Linked DNA regions of Homo sapiens. The protein of the gene in region 1 interacts with the protein of each later gene in a pairwise test. Each region holds a gene or a part of one and is shown in the gene's direction. Other genes may lie near its edges.

The links. The genes of interacting proteins can lie anywhere in the genome.
Region 2: the proteins of IQGAP1 (region 1) and PKNOX2 interact in binary tests that used the Homo sapiens proteins (3 or more experiments, as listed by UniProt).
Region 3: the proteins of IQGAP1 (region 1) and MAGI1 interact in binary tests that used the Homo sapiens proteins (3 or more experiments, as listed by UniProt).

Annotation. Positions count from the first base shown.
Region 1 is NC_000015.10:90,475,242-90,482,269, forward strand, and holds part of IQGAP1 (ras GTPase-activating-like protein IQGAP1), read left to right. Parts: intron 1-1,421; coding exon 1,422-1,577; intron 1,578-1,825; coding exon 1,826-1,989; intron 1,990-2,423; coding exon 2,424-2,648; intron 2,649-6,718; coding exon 6,719-6,859; intron 6,860-6,955; coding exon 6,956-7,028. UniProt on the Homo sapiens protein: Plays a crucial role in regulating the dynamics and assembly of the actin cytoskeleton.
Region 2 is NC_000011.10:125,391,751-125,398,778, forward strand, and holds part of PKNOX2 (homeobox protein PKNOX2), read left to right. Parts: intron 1-4,224; exon of another isoform or gene 4,225-4,346; intron 4,347-6,123; coding exon 6,124-6,312; intron 6,313-7,028.
Region 3 is NC_000003.12:66,028,891-66,035,918, reverse strand, and holds part of MAGI1 (membrane-associated guanylate kinase, WW and PDZ domain-containing protein 1), read left to right. Parts: intron 1-7,028. UniProt on the Homo sapiens protein: Plays a role in coupling actin fibers to cell junctions in endothelial cells, via its interaction with AMOTL2 and CDH5. May regulate acid-induced ASIC3 currents by modulating its expression at the cell surface.

The DNA of each region.
Region 1 (7,028 bases):
ACCCGCCTCAGCCTCCCAAAGTGCTGGGATTACAGGCGTGAGCCACGACACCCGGCTTTTTTGCATTTTTAGTAGAGACGGGGGTTTCACCATGTTGGCCAGGCTGGTCTGGAACTCCTGGCCTCAAGTGATTGATCCACTCACCTTGGCTTCCCAAAGTGCTGGGATTACAAACATGAGCCACCATGCCCGGCCATCATAAGCTTTTAAAAAAGTTATGTAAGACAGGTCAGGCATGATGGCTCACACCTATAATCCCAGCACTTTGGGAGGCCGAGAAGGGCGGATCACTTGAAGCCAGGAGTTTGAGACCAGCCAGGCCAACATGGTGAAACCCTGTCTCTACTAAAAATTAAAAAAAATTAGCTGGACATGGTAGTACATGCCTGTAATTTCAGCTACTCAGGAGGCTGAGGTGGAAGAATCGCTTGAACCTGGGAGGCAGAGGTTGCAGTGAGCCAAGATTGCATGACTGCACTCCGGACTGGGTGACAGAGTGAAACTCTATCTCCAAAAAAAAAAAAAAAAAAAAAATTATTTAAGACATAAAACAACTTAATTGACAAAATTTTGATAGAGAAAAGAAGATAAATGTCTTCCCCTAATTTCACCTACCCCAGTCATTTTGTATCTTACATTCTTACTTCATATTAAAGGATAAGACTCTTTCCCTATGATAAGTAGTCATAATTTTTTTTTAATTTTATTTTTTGAAACAGAGTTTCCCTCTGTACCCCAGGCTGGAGTGCAGTGGCATGATCATGACTCACTGCAACCTCGACCTCCTAGGCTCAAGTGATTCTCCCACTTCAGCCTCTCAAGTAGCTAGGACGACAGGTGCATGCCACCACGTCTGGCAAATTATATTTTTATAAGAGATAGGGTATCTTTGTATTGCCCAGGCTGGTCTCAAAACTCCTGGGCTCAGGTGATCCTCCTGCCTCAGCCTCCCAAAGTGCTGGGATTACAGGTGTGAGCCGCTGCACCCAGCCATAAATATTATTTTTAACAGTAGCATATTAGATTTTTAGAAGATATACTATGATTTACCTCTTTTTCCCCTAGTATTTGACATTTAGGTTGTTTTCCAAGCGTTTATTATAAATAACATTGCAATTAATGTTTCAATATATATGTAGCTTTTATTGTATTTAAGACTTATTTTTATAATAGACTGCTGGAAGTTGGTTTGCCAATTCAGTGGACATTCTTATGGCTCAGATTCTTTGTTGGAACATAGGAATGGATTTGACTGGTGTACTGAAAACAGGATAAAGTGTAGTGGTTTTTAAATATTCAGTGGGAATCTGCCAGTGCAGTACACCTTCATGTGAGTTTGCACATGCTGCAAAACCTTTCCTCAATGCCCAGAGGTTCATCTTTGAAAGCTTTCTGATCTATTTATTGGTTTTTGTTTATAGGATGTGGTTTCCCACAGTAAAAAACTTACCAAAAAAAATAAGGAACAGTTGTCTGATATGATGATGATAAATAAACAGAAGGGAGGTCTCAAGGCTTTGAGCAAGGAGAAGAGAGAGAAGTTGGAAGCTTACCAGCACCTGTTTTATTTATTGCAAGTAAGTGGCTCCTGGAATCAGTGTTATAAAAATTTAGTGAATTTATTTTTCCACAAGAAAGCCTTACCATCGATCTCTCTGGAAGTATTTTTGACTTCCACTGAGGGGTGAGTGAGGGGCACTGTAACATGTTAATTTATTAATCTTTTTTCTCATATGTATTGTAGTCCTTCAATTTTAAATAATTGAATATATCTTGCCAGCCTTTATATTACCTACAAATGACTTATCCCTTGGTTTTATTTCAGACCAATCCCACCTATCTGGCCAAGCTCATTTTTCAGATGCCCCAGAACAAGTCCACCAAGTTCATGGACTCTGTAATCTTCACACTCTACAACTACGCGTCCAACCAGCGAGAGGAGTACCTGCTCCTGCGGCTCTTTAAGACAGCACTCCAAGAGGAAATCAAGTATGAACAGATTTCCTCAGGGCACAGGCCCCTTCCCACTATCAGAGGGGCTCCCAGTTTGAGATTCATGCCTTCCTGATCTTTTCTTGATCTCAATTAATTTATGAAAAATACTTACTCTAAAGAAGCATCTAATTTTTAAATAACTGATATAAAATCTTGCTGCTTCTAGGGAAGGGATAAATTAACTTTAGGAACATTCTGTATTAAGGTATAATTTCAAAAAGTAATCTGAACAGAAAGAATTCACATTTTTATCTAGTAGCGGACCCAATCATGACCACGATTGAGCGTGCAGCTGCAGGAACATTCTGTGAGTGCTGGGGAATGTTTCGAGAGAAACTGTTTCAGGGAGATAGGATCTTTAAGCAGGAAGGATCTTTTAAGTTGATGGGTTTTGTGACAAGTTTAAATTTTTATCTGATGTTTTATAGGTCGAAGGTAGATCAGATTCAAGAGATTGTGACAGGAAATCCTACGGTTATTAAAATGGTTGTAAGTTTCAACCGTGGTGCCCGTGGCCAGAATGCCCTGAGACAGATCTTGGCCCCAGTCGTGAAGGAAATTATGGATGACAAATCTCTCAACATCAAAACTGACCCTGTGGATATTTACAAATCTTGGGTTAATCAGATGGAGTCTCAGACAGGAGAGGCAAGGTATGTTAACCATAATGACACTTTTCTTTCATGTTGTTATAGTCTTTCCCTCTTTTTTCCCCTCTCTTTATTTATAAACTAATATTAGTTCAAATAGTTTTTCTTTTCTTTTCTTTTTTTAGACAGAGTTTCACTCTTGTCGTCCAGGCTGGAGTACAGTGGCATAATCTCAGCTCACTGCAGCCTCCACCTCCCAGGTCTAAGCAATTCTCATGCCCCAGCCTCCCGAGTAGCTGGGATTACAGTTGCACGCTACCACACCTGTCTGATTTTTGTATTTTTAGTAAGACTGGGTTTCACCATGTTGGCCAGACTGGTCTCGAACTCCTGACCTCAGGCAATCCATCTGCCTCGGCCTCCCAAAGTGCTGTGATTACAGCTGTGAGCCACCACACCCAGCCTCAAATAGTTTTTCTTTAGAAAACTGTGCTTTCTAAGTTGTTGACCTAGTAATAAATTCACTTATTTAGCAAATATTTATTGAGTATTAACTATGTGCCAGGCATTGTGTTAGAGATGTGTACAGTAATGCAATAATGAGTGAAACAGACATGCTTCCTGCCCTCTCTTCATAGTTCATTGGGTGGAAGAGACACCAACCAGGTACATAAAAATAAAAGCATAATTAAACATTGAAGAAAGTTTTATGAAGTTTTATGTACGGTTCTTTAATGGAGACTTTATAAGAGGGAGCTAACATAAGGTGGTTAGGGAAAGCCTATCCCGGAAGATAAAATTTCATTTAGCTGAGGCCCTAAAGCTAAGATGAACCCAGCCTTACTAAGAGCTAGGTGCAGAGTGTTTATGTCTGAACACTCTAAGCTGGAGGGTGTAGGACTTAAATGGACCCTGGCATAACTAGGGATACAGTTGAATGAGAAGGTTCATATAGATTGGGTGAGATCACTGTGTTTCATTAAAGGAAAAAGAAAACGGTGTGGAGTGAGCTTCCCTGAAATATCGTGAGTTGGGCTAATTAAATTAACGTATTACAGGAGATAGCTGAGCTAGGGCCATAGCGTAACCACCAACATTCATTTATCTAAAGCAAAAGTGTGCCAATCAAATATTGGTAATGCTGGGAAAAGGGAGTTCAGAATGCCAAAACGTTTCTGGTTTTATTTGTCTTGGGTGAGGACCCAGAGGGGTGGGAGATGGAGGTGTGAGCAGCATGGTCTGTTGTGGTTTTTTCTTGTTGTGGAGTAGAGTTAGATCATGCATGAAGCTCTCTGGGCATAGGTGGAGTAGCAGCTGTCCACACCATTGCTATTCAAAGTGTGGTTTGCACACCAGTAATGGAAAATCATCTGTGCACACTGTTTAGTTTAACTGATACTTTTTTTTTCATAGCAAGATTTTCTTAATGAAGGAAGTAATGTATTGATTTACATTCTGACTCATTGTCTTTATCTTGTCTTTGATCAGTTTGTAGACTGGCACTGGTCCACACTTTGAATAACACTATTCTTCATTCTACTTTCCATGTACCCGGATGCCAGGCAAACAGGGAGTTTTACGCTGGGTGGAGAACGGAACATTCTGCTGACTCCTTGAAAGGGCTTATCTCACCAGCCATGGTAGCTCACGACTGTAATCCCAGCTCTTTGGGAGGCTGAGGTGGGAGGATTGCTTGAGCTCAGGAGTTTGAGACCAGCCTGGGTAACATAGGGATACCTTGTCCCTACTTAAAAAAAAAAAAAAAAAAAATTAGCTGGGTGTGGTTGTGCACACCTGTAGTTCCAGCTATTCCAGAGGCTGAGGCAGGAGGATAGGTTGAGCATGGGAGGTTGAGGCTGCAGTGTGCCTTGATGGCGCCACTGCACTCCATCCTGGTTGACAAAAAAAGAAAGAAGGGGCGTTTCCTTATTAGGAATCATTTGGCATCTGATTGGTTCTCAGTACCATGTAGGTCTGTTATCAGGACTCAGATCATTGCAAAAGTCTTTTTAATTTTTTTGCCTGCATACCTGAGGCCCACATCCAGGAATGTGGTCAGCCAAGTGCAATACTTGTCTGGGAAGTTTTGCCTGCAACCCAGGGCATTCCTTGCCGATAGCCCCATGTACACTGGCTCCGGGCTTCTCAGTTATTTCCTCTGATGGTCCATGAGTCAGTCATTTTCAGATCCAAAGCCCGCTGGACATTTCAGGATTGGTTTTCTTGTGGGTACCTATAAGAAACTGGTGTCTTATTTTGCCTTTCATAAAATGGAAATTGAGCCAGGCATGGTGGCATGCACCAGTAGTCCCAGTTGCTCAGGAGGCCAAGACAGGAAGATCGCTTGAGCCCAGGAGTTTGAGCACTGCCTGGGCAATGTAGACCCCATATCTTAAAAAAAAAAAAAAAAAAAAAGGAAATTGATTTGAACTCTTTTTAAGATACCAGTGACTGTGAGGGATGGTGGTGTGGTGGGGATCTGTCCTGCAGGTAAGCATCACAGGTCCCTTAGCTTTCTTCTTTTACTTCAGCCACCATACACGTAGCAAACTGGAATCTTGTCACCTCTTGGGAATGTTCTTTCCTAAAATCTCAAAGTTAATGTTCTGTTCTATCACCAACGTTTTTTAGCATATTGATTCCCTTGCTGGTTACTACTTTTAAAACTCATATAAATAATAAAATATACAATATTCTTTATTGTTAAGTTCCATGTATTTATTTATTTCTCATAGAATGTTTCTGTTGATTTTTGCAGAATTTTTGTGTTCATAGTCTACCAATTTTAATTTAGCCATGCTATGACAAATGAAGAGGGGTATCCCTATCTACTTGTATTTTTCTTTTTGTTGTTGTGGTTGAGACAGAGTCTCGTTCTGTTGGTCAGGCTGGAGTGCAATGGTGTAATCTCAGCTCACTGCAACCTCTGCCTCCCTGGTTCAAGCGATTCTGCTGCCTCAGCCTCCCGAATAGCTGGGATTACAGGCATGCGCCACACGCCTGGCTAATTTTTGTATTTATAGTAAAGATGGGGTTTCTCCATGTTGGCCAGGCTGGTCTCAAACTCCTGACCTCAGGTGATCCACCCGCCTCGGCCTCCCAAAGTGCTAGGATGACAGGCGTGAGCCACCACACCCGGCCTCTACTTGTATTTTCTAAGGCTGCCATAACAAATCACCTCAAATTGGGTGGCTTAAAACAACCGAAAGTCATGGTCTCACAATTGTGGAGGCCAGAAATTTGAAACCATTATCATGAAGTCGAGGTGCTGGAAGAGCCACGCTCCCTGCAGAGGCTCTAGTGGAAACTCTGTTTCTTGACTCTTAGAGCTTGTGGTGACTGTTGACATCCCTCAACTTGTGGCTGTGTGGTTCCAGCCTCTGCCTTTGTGGTCACATTGCCTTCTCTTCCCCTTCTGTGTGTACCAAAGCTCTCTCTGCCTCTTTTTTTTTTTTTTTTTTTTTTTTTTAAGACAAGGTCTTGCTCAAGCAGTCCTCCCACCTCAGCCTTCCTAGTAGCTGGGAATGCTAGCATGTGCTGCTGTGCCTGGCATAGCACTCCTATCCTTGAAGACCTCCTTCTGGTTTCTAACAAAGTCCAGATTTGTCAGTATCATATACGGGGTCTGTCATGGCCTGCTCCCTGTCTGCTTTTCCACTGTCATTTCTCCTGTCTCCCCTTCCTTCCTAGAAGACTCTTCCTCTCCTTTTTTCCTGAGTTCAAGCATCCCTTCGTTTTGGAAGCTTTCCTTGCTTTTTCCATTCTGAGTTGAAGCCCTTTCCCTATGGTCCTGTGGCACTTTTGGTGAACTGATTTACAGCACAATAGGTTTATAATCATCTGTTTGTGTGTCGCTCCCACCAGACTGTAAAAGACTGAAGAGAAGGTGTCATGTCTTGTATAACTTTTATTCCCAAGTGCCTGTTATTGTGCCTGGCACACAATTCAGGCACCTGATTCACAGTTAAAAACCTGCGTTCAGATTCTAGACTTATCACTTACCAGCCCCGTGAGGATGAGCTTAAGCTATCTAATATTTCTGGGTCTTATAGTTTATGAAAGATAAGACACTTGCTTCAGGCTGTTCCTGGCTGTTAGTCTAACATAGTTGGGTATAATTTCTGTCTTCCCAGCAAACTGCCCTATGATGTGACCCCTGAGCAGGCGCTAGCTCATGAAGAAGTGAAGACACGGCTAGACAGCTCCATCAGGAACATGCGGGCTGTGACAGACAAGTTTCTCTCAGCCATTGTCAGCTCTGTGGACAAAATCCCGTGAGTGCCATCAGTTGTCATGACCCCCAGTAGAACCCAGCACTAAGTGCCTTTCTGCTCCTTGGCCCTTCTCACTAAGTTTTGTCCATCCCGCAGTTATGGGATGCGCTTCATTGCCAAAGTGCTGAAGGACTCGTTGCATGAGAAGTTCCCTGATGCTGGTGAGGAT
Region 2 (7,028 bases), on another chromosome or scaffold:
TTCTTAGAAAAAGAGGGCTGAATCATTATTTTGAAAGAGAAGGGAGGGAAAGAAGCTGAAAGATGGAGCAACACCTGGGGAGAGGAATTAAGGATGCATTCACCACATTTGGCGGTGATGTTGAATTAAGTGGCATTGTTATTGCCCTAGAAGATTTGGAATAAATTTTCACATGACCCCGATCATTTAGAAAAATAGTTTAATAAATCAGAATTTTCTAACTTGGAGACAAAAATCCAAAATTGTAAACACAGGATAGAGGATGATTTACTAAACACAAATATGGGAGCAAAAAAGACCCTTGGAGTTACTATTTTTTCACTGGCTGGACGTAGAATAGCAGTAGAAAAGCCAATGGGATATCAGACATTATTAGAAGAGATTATTTTTACAACTTGCATGCATTTGGTTTACTGTGGTTTATAAAGCATGTTTACATCATTATCTCCTTTAGCCCCTTTCAAATCTTGTGAGTTAGAGATGAACATTATCCCCATTTTACACGTAAAGAGACTGAGGCTCAGAGAAATCATGGAATTTGCCCAACGGCACCCAATTAACAGAGAGCGGGCTCGGACTCAAATCCAGGCTGCCTGACAATGAACCCACAGTGTTCCTGCCCTGCCAGGCAGCCCTCTAACATTGATAGTGTTGCCTACCTTTCTAATATTGAACAGGTCCTACATATTCATTGCCTCAGAATACCATTATGATTTACTCTACCTCCTTAAATCTTTCAACCAATTCCATTAGCCCATAAAAAAGTAATCCTTCAGCTGCACTTTATTAGACCAAAGGATAAGTCCACTTTTGGTCACTGTGCACCAGACCTGGTTTAAACATGCTGTGCGTGTATTTTATTTGAGCAAAGCTCTTCTGAGTATATTTTACTTTTGTTTTACTTACCTGTATTTTCTGATTTTATAAAGTAAGTATAAATTGGTTATATATTTAAAATAAATGAATAGGTAAGTGCACTTTTCTCTGTGTATGTGTGAATATATGTATGTGTGTGAGAAAGAAGGAAAAAAGGAAAGAAAGGAGGGAGGAAAGAAGGAACGGGGAAGGGAAAGAGAAGAAAGGTTTAAGGAATGACGATCGTTTTTGTCTAGAAAAGAGAAAGTTTGGCCGGGCGCGGTGGCTCACGCCTGTAATCCCAGCACTTTGGGAGGCCAAGGTGGGCGGATCATGAGGTCAGGAGATCGAGACTATCCTGGGAAACACAGTGAAACCCTGTCTCTACTAAAAATACATAAAAAAAAAAATTAGCCCGGCGTGGTGGCGGGCGTGGTCCCAGCTGCTTGGGAGGCTGAGGCAGGAGAATGGCGTGAACCAGGAGGTGGAGCTTGCAGTGAGTCGAGATCGCGCCACTGCACTCCAGCCTGGGCGACAGAGCAAGACTCGTCTCAAAAAAAAAAAAAAAAAGAGAGAAGAGAAAGTTAATTGAACAACTTGTTCAAGTCAGATGCCTGGTCCAATATGTGGCATATAGTAAGACTCAATACTTGTTGAATGAATAAAATTAAATTAAAAAGAAGTTGTGTTGATAGAGGTCCTAGAAGTTCCTCGATGTTCTTGGTGCCTACAGAAGGCACTTTACATTAAGGCGGGAGAGATTTTGATTGAATATAAGGAAAAGCTTCTAATCAGCAGACTGAGAGAATATGGAGAAGGTCCGAGGCAACAAGGTCATCGCCCAGTGACCGGGAGAGGCTGGAGGAGAAGATGCAGCCTGTGTCCTGATGAGTTTGGACTGTGCAGCCACCTAGAGGCTGGTCCAGGTCACCGTGTGGGGTTCATTCTAACACCATCAGGCGTGAATTGAGGGCAGAAGTCCTGGTAATGTTCAGAGAGTCAGAAAACGTAAGGGACCTGACAGTCCAGCCCTCTCCGTGTGCACATGGAGAAGCAGGCACCTGTGTTGGTGAGGTGTTTGGACCCCGGGGGGCTGTGCCAGGAGTGAGAGATGGGAGATCAGAGCAGCTGAGAAAAGGCACATTACCAGGAAGGGTTCTGGAAATCCTAAACTTTGATGTCTCAAAAGCTACTTGGCTTCCTAGAACCCCGTACTTGCTGTCACTGAGCCACTTTCTCCCAAACCACGCACCCTTTATACTACCACTTCCTCTACCTACATAATCCTGAGAGTCCATATTGAAAGACAAGGCACACGGGTGGGGGGTGGGGCAACCTGGCTTCATATCGCTCACCAGTTGTGTGACTCTAAGCAAGGAAACGTAATATTTTTGGATTTTATTTTCTTCAAATGCAAAATATGAGCAATAATGGTACCTACTTAATGAGATGGTTGTGTGGAATAAATAAGGCCTGGAATGGGCTTAACACAGTGCCTGAGACACAGTCTGAATAAGAAACGTTTGGGTATTATTAACAATCCAGCAACGCATATGTGTTAAGTACCTTATCCTGTGCTCATTACACTGAGAGACATAGACCAAGATGTTCGTGGCCAAAGTCAAGTAGAACATTAGGCAAGAACAAATCTTTATTAAGTACTTAACTCCACTTTGGGGTCCAAATGATCCATTCTAAAGTCACAATTTTCCTCTTTGCTTAGGATGGCTCAGTCTCCCTCAGTCTCAGCCCCACAGAGGTGGTACTTCTTAGGAGGAGACCTTGTGACTGAGCCCTGCATGACGACACACAATCGCTGCTTTCTGTCTTTGAGTGACACTTGGTCTAATTTAGTACTCCAAAAACCCTTAATTAGTTGAGCACAATCCCTGCTCATCAGACAAGCCACAAGCCCAGCCCAGGGAATGTGGGCTCCCCACTTGAAATGCCAATGAGGCTCAGAGAAGGGTGTAATGCTGGCTTCAAGCCACACTTCTCTACACACACCTCACAGTCACAATTCTCTGGGAGAGATTTCCTTCCTTGTTTCCATCCCTTTTTATATTGTCCAAACTCTCCTCTAGGCATCCAGGAGCTAGCCAAAAGCTAGGAGGGTGGGACTAAAAAGAGATCCCATATATTGCTTGCGTCAACATAAATGGATCTGGAAAAGCAATAAGCATCACCCGCTCCTAGCGGTTACATTTAATTTTGATATAAATGTAGATTCACATGCAGTTATAAGAACTCATACAGAGAGCTCCTGATTCACATCTTGTATAACCATAGCACAATTTCACAGCCAGGAACAATCCACCAACTGTATTCAGATTTCACCAGTTTTACGTGCCCTCGTGTGTGTGTGTGTGTGTGTGTGTACATGTAATTAGTTCTGTGCAATTTTATCATATACTTAGATCCACATAAACATTGTTATAGCAAAGTACAGAACAGTTCCTCCCTCCCTCCTCCACTCTACCGCTGTCAACCACTAATCTGTCTTTCTGTCTTCCATCTCTATAATTTTGTCATTTCAAAAACGTTTTGTAAATGGCATCATATAGTATATAATCCTTTGAGACTGGCTTTTGTCTCTCAGGAAAATTCCCTTGCAATCTATCCACATTGTTGGGCATATCAATAGCTCATTCTTTTTTATTGCTGAGTTATATTCCATGATATGGATGAATTACAGTTTCTTTATCCATTCACCCATTGAAGTACATTTGGGTTGTTTCCGATTTTTGACTATTAGAAGTAAAGCTGCTTTGAACAATTTGTATACAGGTTTTTGTAAGAACATATGTTTTTATTTCTCTGGGATAAATGCCCAAGAGTACAATTGCTGGGTCATATGGTACGCACATATTTAGTTTTGTAAGAAATTGTCATACTGTTTTCCAGAGTGGCTGTACCATTTTACACTCTTAACAGCAATGTCTGAGTGTTCTAGTCTCCAGTTCCTCACCAGCATTTGGTGTTGTCATATTTATTTCTTTTATTTTAACCATACCAATAGGTGTGTAGTGATATCTCATTGTGGTTTTAATTTGCATTTCCCTAGTGACTAATGACATTGAATATCTTCTCTTGTGCTTATTTGCCATCTGTATATCCTCTTCAGTGAAATGTCTAATCATGTCTTATGACCATGTTCTAATTGGGTTGCTTGTTATTTTACTGTTTTGTTTTGAGAGTTCTTTATATATCCTAGATACAAGTCCTTTGTCAGGTACTTGGTTTGCAAATATTCTCCTCCAGTATGTAGTCTTTTCCTCTTCTTCACAGGGTCTTTTGAAGAGTAAACATTTTTAATTTTGACAGCGTCCAGTTCCTCACTGGATCATCTTTTTTTTTTTTTTTTTTTAGATGGAGTTGCGCTCTGTCGCCCAAGCTGGAGTGCAGTGGCTCCATCTCGGCTCACTGTAACGTCCACCTCCTGGGTTCAAGCGATTCTCCTGCCTCAGCCTCCCAAGTAGCTGGGACTTCAGGCATGCACAACCACCACTGGCTAATTTTTGTAATTTTAGTAGATATGGGGTTTCACCATGTTGGCCAGGCTGGTCTCAAACTCCTGACCTCAAGTGATCCTCCTGCCTCGATGTCCCAAAGTGCTGGGATTACAGGCGTGAGCCACTGTGCCCAGCCTGGATCATGCTTTTGGTGTCAACTCTAAGATCTCTTTGCCTCACCCTAGATCCTGAAGATTTTTTCCTGTTTTTTTTTAAGAGGTTTATAGTTTTCTGTCTTACATTTATGTCTTTGATCCATTTTGAGTTAATCTCATCTAAGGTATGAGGTTTAAATCAAGATTCAGTTTTTTTGCATGTGGATGTCTAATTATTCTAGCACCATTTGAACAACCCCCTGTTGAAAAGCAATTTGGCAATATTTATCATAATCCACAAGAACGTTCATAGCTTTTTTTCCTGTCACTTCTGGGAATTCATCCTAAAGAATAATGCAGAAACTTTTAAAAAAAAAAAAAAAAAGCTATAAGCTTAGAAAATATTCACTGTAACATTTTTTATAAAATTGAAAAATTGGAAGTAATCTAAATACCTAACAATAGGAGACTGGTTAAGTATGGCACACACATGAAATAATATGCAACATTTAAAAATATGTTTACTCAATAACTTTCACCCATTCAGCAAATGTTTACTCCATATCCATATGTGTTCGTGCTGAAGATAACATGGTGAGCAAATTAGACATCATCCCTGCCTTCTCAAAGCTCATAGTCTAGAAGAGAGGATAGAGAAAACAATTCTGGCACTTAGAAAAATAGATTTGCTAAACTAGAGGGAAAAAACAGAAAACAAAATTGCATGCACAAGGTTATTGAAACTATGTTAAAATATATGGGTGTAGGAAAAAATCATTCTTTAAGGCGATTGGATCGAAGACAGGTTTTTTTCACCCTGCTTTCCATACCTTCCATAGTATTTTCTTTTTATGATAATAACAGCAGTAAAGAGCAAAGCTTCAATTGCAAAATAGCTTCTTGCCACGAAAAGGTTAGGAATGTCCATTTGAAGAGGCAGCAGGCTCCCGTACAGCAATCCAAAGGGCATGGAAAAGGCCACAGCAGACAGTGAGGTAGCTGGTGCCCAGCTAAGTCATGCTGGATTATTCAGTCCATCAGCAAGTATCCACAGAGCGTCCACAAGGTAACCGGTATCCCATGAGGCACTCAGAATGCTTGTTTAAGAATAGACAGTCCCTGAGCTCTAGAGGCACTTATAAGAAATTCTGATCTCCATCTTCCTCAGGCTTGCCTGGTCCTTCACACCTCACAATGTGCTACCATGTATACGCCCTCATACAATACTCACAACAAACCTGTAAAGTTGTCAGGGAGAATCTAATTATCCCCATTTGTTAGCCACTAAGGCACAGAGAGCTTGAGCAACTTGCCCAAGCTCACACAGATAGTAAATGACAGGCCGGGGGCTTGGACCTGGCCTCCCATCGCTAAGGCCAATGCTGTTCTCAGAATACCACAACTGCCTCAAGAACAGCTGTGATAACAGAGGGCTCAGAGCAAAGGAATAATTAGCAGAGAGCCATCATTAGAACTGAAGTCATGGGGATGAGAAGGCACCGCCTACCACTTCTGGGCCTTTTGGCCAAGATCAAGTGTAGGAAGCATGAGCTACGGCAGGGGGTGGGCTCCCCTCCCCTGGGGTGGTGGGGGCTGGGGGTCCAGGCAGTGAGGGAAATGGGATGCAAACACCTGGGCTCACCTCTCCTCCCTCTCCACAGATGGTGAAGGCAATCCAGGTCCTGAGAATCCACCTGCTGGAGCTGGAGAAAGTCAATGAACTCTGCAAGGACTTTTGTAACCGTTACATCACCTGCCTCAAAACCAAGATGCACAGCGACAACCTGCTCAGGAATGATCTAGGGGGGCCCTACTCCCCCAACCAGCCCTCCATCAACCTTCACTCACAGGTAACACCCAGAGCTGGGTCCCATCTCTTAAGCCAGGCTCCTAAGCCCAGCTCTGGAGCCACGCGTGGAGGAAGGTCCCCTGGTGACCTTCACTGGGTTAGACCCACTGGGTTCCTTTGCCATGAGGGCCCTCCTCTGATGCACTCTTCTTCATATCCATTAGGCCATCCCATCCCTTTTTTACACACAGTCTGCCCTGCCAGGGCATTAGTATTCCCTTGAAAATGACCAGATCGGAGAGGGACAATGTCCAAAATCATTCCTGGCTTCCTGGCCCAAGGTATCCCCCAGAATGAGCACCAGAGCTAAGGAGAAGGAAAGCTCTCCTGGAGGATGAGCTGGGACAGGCTTCTTAAGAGGCTGCGGCTTGCTGAGCCATCTGCATTTCTGGGAAAGGGCATTTGGGGAAAGCAGTCATTCCCTGAATCCTGCCCACCTAATGGGTGAAGCCAGCTTCCCATGGGCCTGCTGCTCCCTAATCATTCTCCAGGCACTCACGCTACTCTGGCATCTCTGTCCCCCTAAGGTTCAGGGCCATGGTCAAGGTCACCTCAAACCACCCTGTTCCCAGGTTCCCCTGCCACCTCCTTCCTGAGACCTGGGAAATGCAGAAATGCTGACTACACGCTTTGGGCAAGATGGGGTTTCCCCTCCAGGGCAGGATATTTTCCCCAAACCTACAAACCGAGAAAGCTGCCTGGCAATACCTTCCCGCC
Region 3 (7,028 bases), on another chromosome or scaffold:
ACTAGTTGCCAAATTTCTGGGAGGCGATGTCCCAGGGCTCTCTCATCATGGAGTTTAGGAAGGCTTGGTGAGATAATCAAGTGGGTTTGGAAACAGACACCTCTGAGTTGAAAGGAAACTGTAGTGTCTCCAGGTGTTAGCTCTCTTCACCCCTTGTGCACAGATTGTTCACAGCAGGGGCGAGTGTGTGGGTATGTTTCTGTGTGTGTGTGTATATGTATGTATGGATGGATGTACGTGAATCTACTTGTAATGGGATAGAAATATGATACTGATTGGGAAACCTGAATGGCCTGGAATTCATTGCAGTCTGAAAGTGACTATTTCATGTAATAATTACACAGGCACAGTTGGATCTTCTGACGTCTTCATTACCAGTAATGATGGCCCTAGAAACCATTTCACCAGTTTTCTGCTCCCTCTTCCATGTTGAGAATATGATTTAGATTGTATGACAGAATTGCTCTTAATGTGTCTTCATTACTGTGCCTTTTAAAGTCATATCAAGCAGGCTCATACTTGGTATATGGTAAAGAAAAATACTACTTTTGTGTTGTTTGCATCCCAAGTTAGCCACTTCCAGGGACACAGATCACTCTGGATACTGTCTACATGGTGGGAGAAAATTCTGTTTTTCTACTTCATGGCAGTTCTCTGGAAAGATACATGGACCAAAACTGTCTGTGACAGGACTGGATTGTGCAGGAATCAAACTCAATGGATCTGCCAGGTTGGACTTGGTTCATTTTAAATGGAGAAGACAGTCCTTTGTCAGGTTGGAGTTGGTTCATTTTAAGTGGGGAAGACAGTACTTTGTCATAAAATGCCTTTACAAAGTTATATATAATTATGTGTATTCAGGTATCATTTACCTATAGTAAAATGCATATCTTAGATATATAATTTGATGAGTTTTAAGCGATGTATGCACTCATGTTAATCACTCAAATGAAGATAGAGAACATTTTCATCACCCCAGAAATTTTTCTCATGTTCCTGTCCAGTTAATTCCCCCCTCCCCCTGCACCATAGATCTACCATAGAATAATTTTGTCTTCAACTTCATAAAAATGAACTAATGCAGTATGTACTCTTTTGTGTTTGGCTTTTGTTACTCAACAAAATATTTTGGAGATTTCGTTTTGTTGCATGTGTACTTCATTTGGTTCTTTTTTTATTGCTAAGTAATATTCCATTGTATACACATACCAGTTTGTCCTTTTGCTTGTTTATGGACATTTGGAGTATTTACCATTTTTTACTATTACGAATAAAGCTGTTATTAATGTTTCAGTTGCTCTACATCTTTGGCCATCTTTGATTTTGTTTGTCTTTTGAATTTTAGCCGTCCTAGTATATGCTTCGGAAAAATGTAATTAAGGAAACTTTGATACAGGATATAAGATGTCGCTAGTATGTATTAAGATCTTGCCTTAGAATATAATAGGTGCTTGGCTAAGCTGATGCTTCGTGGGCATTCTCTTTTTCAGTCCTTACAATTGGACTCAGATGTTAGAAGCTGAGGTTCAGAGAATTTGGGTAACTTTTCCAAGGGTCATACCACAGTGGCAGTAGAGCTGCAACCCAGCTCTGTCTGATTCCAAAGCCTGTGCTCCCAATTCCTGGGACAGTAGGTCTCCAAGTGAGGTCCTCAGACCAGTGGCATTAGTATAGTAACCTGGGAACTGGTTAGAAATCCAGATTCCTGGGCCCCACCTTAGTTCTACCAATTCAGAAGCTTTGCGGGGGATGGGGTTGGGGTTGGGGGGTGGGGTAACAACCATGGGGTGTTTTAATAAACCCTCAAGGGATTCTGATGGGCTTATTAAGGGATTCAAGGGTTCAGTTTTAAGAACTACTGTACTAGGGTATAGACCAAAATTGAGAAGATGACATCAGATGAGACAGGTGACCTGGGTTCTAGAATAAGCTCTGCCAGTCACATTCTTGGAGCCTACATTTCTCTATGCCAAAAATAAGTGGGTGAGCCTCTTCAGGTTATTTGTGCTCGTGAAATCCTTTGTTTCCATGAATCACCCAGACTCCAAAGGTTTAAAATGGTATGATTGTAGTTTCCCAAAGTGGTGTATTACAGGTCATGCTTACATATTTTTGCAGGTGAATTTTGTGGTTTTTCAAATTACCCAGGAACTGTAACTATCCCTCTACTTTTTGTGTATGTGTGGCAGTGTGGAGATAATAAAAGAGATACAATTTAAAAGCCAAACCAAACCACCACCAGACCCTTCCCCTCACTGTAATGAGGGAAATTGTGATCACATATGGTTGAATATAGTTCTTTGTGTGGTTTTTTGTTTTGGTATTGTTTTGATTCATTGGAATGTATGACAATAACTCTCATTTTAAAACACAGGGCCTTGTCTTTCAGAGTTGTTTGGTTTCTCATGAATCTCTGGTCTTGCTTCTTTCTCCTCAGTGACCTCCTTCTGGTGTGCTGTAAAATGCTTAACAACCAGTGCTAGTAGTGGGTAGACCCTGATTTATAGCATAGCTGGAGTTGGGAAGAGACGCGTATACTTGCTGTTCCCAAGCCAATGTGAGCTGGCCCCCACACACCACTGACTGCATATAAGATAGTGCCCTTGTGGTGGCTCACCTGTAATCCCAGCACCTTGGGAGGCCAAGGTGGGTGGATCACTTGAGCTCAGGAGTTTAAGACCAGCCTGGGCAACATGGTGAAGTCTCTACCAAAAAATACATAAACTAGCTGGGCGTGGTGGCGAACTTCTGTAGTCCCAGCTACTCGGGAGGCAGAGTGGGAGAATCGCTTGAGACCAGGAGGCAGAGGTTGCAGTGAGCCAAGATTGTACCACTGCACTCCAGCCTGGGTGACAGAGTGAGACCCCCATCTCACACACACACACAAAAGATAGCTCCCTGAGTAAAGTGCCATTCCCTCACCCTGTTTGTTCCTTCATAGCCTTGACACAATCTCGTATTATCTTCTGTTGTTGTTGTTGTTGTTTTTTTTTTTTTTTTTTTTGAGATGGAGTTTCGCTCTGTTGCCCAGGCTGGAGTGCAGTGGTGCGATCTCGGCTCACTGCAACCTTTGCCTCCCGGGTTCAAGCAATTCTGATGCTTAGCCTCCCGAGTAGCTGGCATTATAGGCATGTACCACCATGCCTGGCTAATTTTTTGTATTTTAGTACAGGTGGGGTTTCGCCATGTTGCCCAGGCTGGTCTCTTGAGCTCAGGCAATCTGCCTGCCGCCTTGGCCTCCCGAAGTGCTAGGATTGTAGGCGTGAGCCACCGCAACGGGCCCTGTTTCTTCTTTATTGTCTGTTTCCCCTCCCATGAGAATAGAAGTTCCATGAAAACAAGAAGCTTGTCTCTCTTGTTCACTGCTGTATTTCTCAGTGTCTAAAAAAGACCCAGCAGGGCCAGGCGTGGTGGCTCATGCCTGTAATCCCAGCACTTTGGGAGGCCGAGGTGGGTGGATCACAAGGTCAGGAGTTCAAGACCAGCCTGGCCAAGATGGTGAAACCCTGTCTCTACTAAAAAAAAAAAAAAAACAAAAAAATTAGCCGGGCGTGGTGGTGGGCGCCTGTAATCCCAGCCACTAGGGAGGCTGAGGCAGAGAATTGCTTGAACCCGGGAGGCTGAGGTTGCAGTGAGCTGAGATCGCGCCACTGCACTCCAGCCTGGGTGACAGAGTGAGACTCATCTCAAAAAAAAGACCCAGCAAATAATAGGTGCTCACTAAAATTGGTTGGATGCCTGAATGACTATTCCATTGTTTCGGAAGGTAAGTGCAACTAGGCCACTTGCAACATCTTTCCTCCCTTTCTCTCGATTTGTCTTTTACTTCTTGTTTAGGATCCAGAGGTCTTCACTTTCTCGTAATCAGATCTTCCAATTAGCAGGCTTTCTGTGTCTAATAATTTATACTGGGCTATAAATGACTGACAAGGATTAATGAATCCTATTCAAGTATTTCTGCCTGTTGACTCTAACTGAAGTTTAACAAGTGAGCCTCTAAACGTGAAATTTCAGATGTTCAGCAGGCAGGATGATGAGGATTTTTTTTGTTGATGTGGGACCTGTGTCCTCATGCCTAAAAATGATTCTTTCCCTCCGTTTTCTTGCAGCATTGTCCCTGTGTACTTTTTTTTTTGGCTAATAGCAAATCAGATCTTTGCTACAGAACACAATCCAATTTTAGCCCTCTCGCTCTTAAATTGTACTTTGTATTTATGTCTTTTTTTTTTTAACTTAAACTTTCAAAAATCAACCTGTTTTTGTTCTTGGTGCCAAAAGACCACTCTTGGAAGGATATTTTTAGGTTACACTGTGGAACACTGTACAGGTTTTACAAAAAATGAAGCAAGGACGTACAACGCACTTGTCCATCGTTTCCAGTGGCCACCCCTTGTCATTGGCTGTGTTATTTAAAAATAGATTAACTTGACCTTCTGTGGCAATGGCATACAGTTGGCTCACCGTGTTTCTTGGCATTCATTACCCAGCTGGTTTTAGATGGCAGAATTGATGATATCCACCAAGGGGAATTAAGTGGTTTATAAGAGAAAACATTCTGACATCTCCTTACCACAAGGGTTTACATGAAGGATGTTGCTTTGTAAACGAGGGTTATTTAATGCAAAGCACCACTCTCTGGTGTTAGTGGCCCTTTCCTTGAGTTTGTATATACAAGTAACAGGATATACTGATTTTGTATACACTGAGAATAAAGGCTGTCAAATTCGTTAAGGGCTGACATTCACATCCTAAAAAAGTAGGTTACTGCATGCCTGCCTGTCTTTTTGCAGCTCATATGTGAGATCTGTAACCTTGAAAAATCCCTAGTACACACTGGTGCATTGCTAGACTTCTCCCCTATGGAGGTCGGCATCGATGTAGTATTTCTTATGAATTCATTTTGTTGTTTCAACAGATGTCAAGGTTGGTCCTATCATATTGACTCTGCTTTCTAGTTAAGTGTCCTGTGGAGGGTCTAATGTGTTCTGGATGTCAACTTTTCCGAAGGCATGTAGCAAAATTAGAAAATGTAATTTGAGCAGTGTCTTTTATGATTAAATAGAAATCTTCTCTTTTTATGGCTCAGTAATTACATAATGGAATAATCCATTATTAATCATTTCTGTAGTCTCTGTATCTGAGTGAAAGCCGAAGTCCTTATAGTGACTTCCAAGGCTGCCCGTGACCTGTCCTAAGGATATTACTTCTCTTTCTCTGTCCTGCCTGCTAGTGCCCACCTGATCATCTTACAGGCTTGCTATCTCTTGAGCTTCAAGTCTTTCTGAAATGTCACCTGCCCAGTGAGGCCTCTTGTGAGCACATTATTGAAAACCATAACTCCACTGCCACGTGTCATTCCCTGTTCCCCCTCTCAGCTTTATTTTACTCCATAGTATGTAGATCGCTTCACCACAAGTAAATTTCTTATTTTACCTCTTTCTCTAGAATGTAAGCTCTGAGATGGCAGGAATGTTGTCTTGTTCTCCCACAGTATCCCCAGTAGCAAAAACAGTGCATGGTGCCTAGTACTTGCTTGGGTATTTGTTAAATGTTTACAGTCAAGTTTAGAACTAGAATAAATCTCTTCTGAGGTCAGTTACCTCTGAAAATGTAGATATATAGAAGTCCCTGAAAATTTAGGTGACTGATGATGGATCACATTAAAGTTGGTTAGAGTTTAACATTTACAGTCAATGGCTGGGGCTAAAATAGAGCTTAGCCGATTGATCCAGGAATATTCTTAAAGTCAGTGAACATTGCTGGCCTGCTTCAGTTGGTCTTAGTATTATGGGTTTACAAGTAAGAACATGTGGGTCCTTGGTTTCTTGTCAAGAAGGGGAGGGAAGAGTCCACTGGAGTCTCCTTGGAGTCAGAGATAAGGTCACATTTCCAATTTTAGGTTTCCCTGCATGGAAGAGGTCCTTGACTTTAAAATTAATTGAGTGTCCTGATTTTCAGAGGTTACTTTGATTTGGGAAATGACGGTAACAAGGGGTACCAGGTGGCTGATCCAAACAGGAGAGCTGAGGCTACTAGAGTCACCATGAAGATCTTGTCGAGTTAGGGATAGGTCTGTGCACAGCATCCCTTACTTAGCCAAGTCATTGGCCTCAGTCCACTTTCAGTCCTGTGTGCTCCCCACCAACATGAATCCCTAGAAGGCAACTCTAGGTCAGGATTTGAATGCACAGGGCTTATCTGGGAGGTGCTCCCAGGAAGTTCCAGTAGGGCAAGGAAGAGGTGAGACCAGTGAGTCAAGAAGGCCAATGGAGATGCTTTAAAGAGCAAGTCACCACTGTGTGTCTAAGGCAGCCCCATGCTGAGTGTGTCATGGAACTTTGCAGACTCTCTCACCCCTAAACAGACTGAGAGGTTCTTCTGGCTGTGTGTATAGACTTTTTCTGTTACCATCTCCAGTGTCATGAAGATGAGTTCCATAAGATAATTACATTCTCATGGCTAAGGTATCAACCCCACCATTACTGTGGATGGAGGCATTTGTGTGTCTGTTTAATGGGCCACAGTTATGCTTCTTACAATAAGGATAATCTTTACTCCTTTATGAGACAAGACTCGAGGCTCTCTTTATGGACAGGGGCATGATGGTGCAATTAAAAGGCGATCGTGCCCTGATTATAAGCCATGTTTCAAAATTACTGCTATATATAGTGTCATCAGGACCGTAGTACTGCTCATAAAATGATCCACAAATAGCAATTTACTGATGTGTCATAGAGTCAGATTTTGGACCCAAGGTTGGCTTGGGTGAAGAGGCAGGCTTTACACTTTATGAGCTGGGTGTTCTGGGGCAAGATGCTGAACCTCTTTGTGCCAGGTTTCCCCCTCGGAAAATGGGGATAATAATGATACCTACTCTCTAGGGTTGTTGGAAAAGTAGAAAGTAAACCACATGACACAGGGCTTGGCACATAGTGAGTGCTCAATAAATGTTGGCTTCTGTAATTGTTTGAATGCTCCCCATTTGAAAGCCCTTGGGAGAGAAGAAAGAATCTCTTGAGAGATGGAGA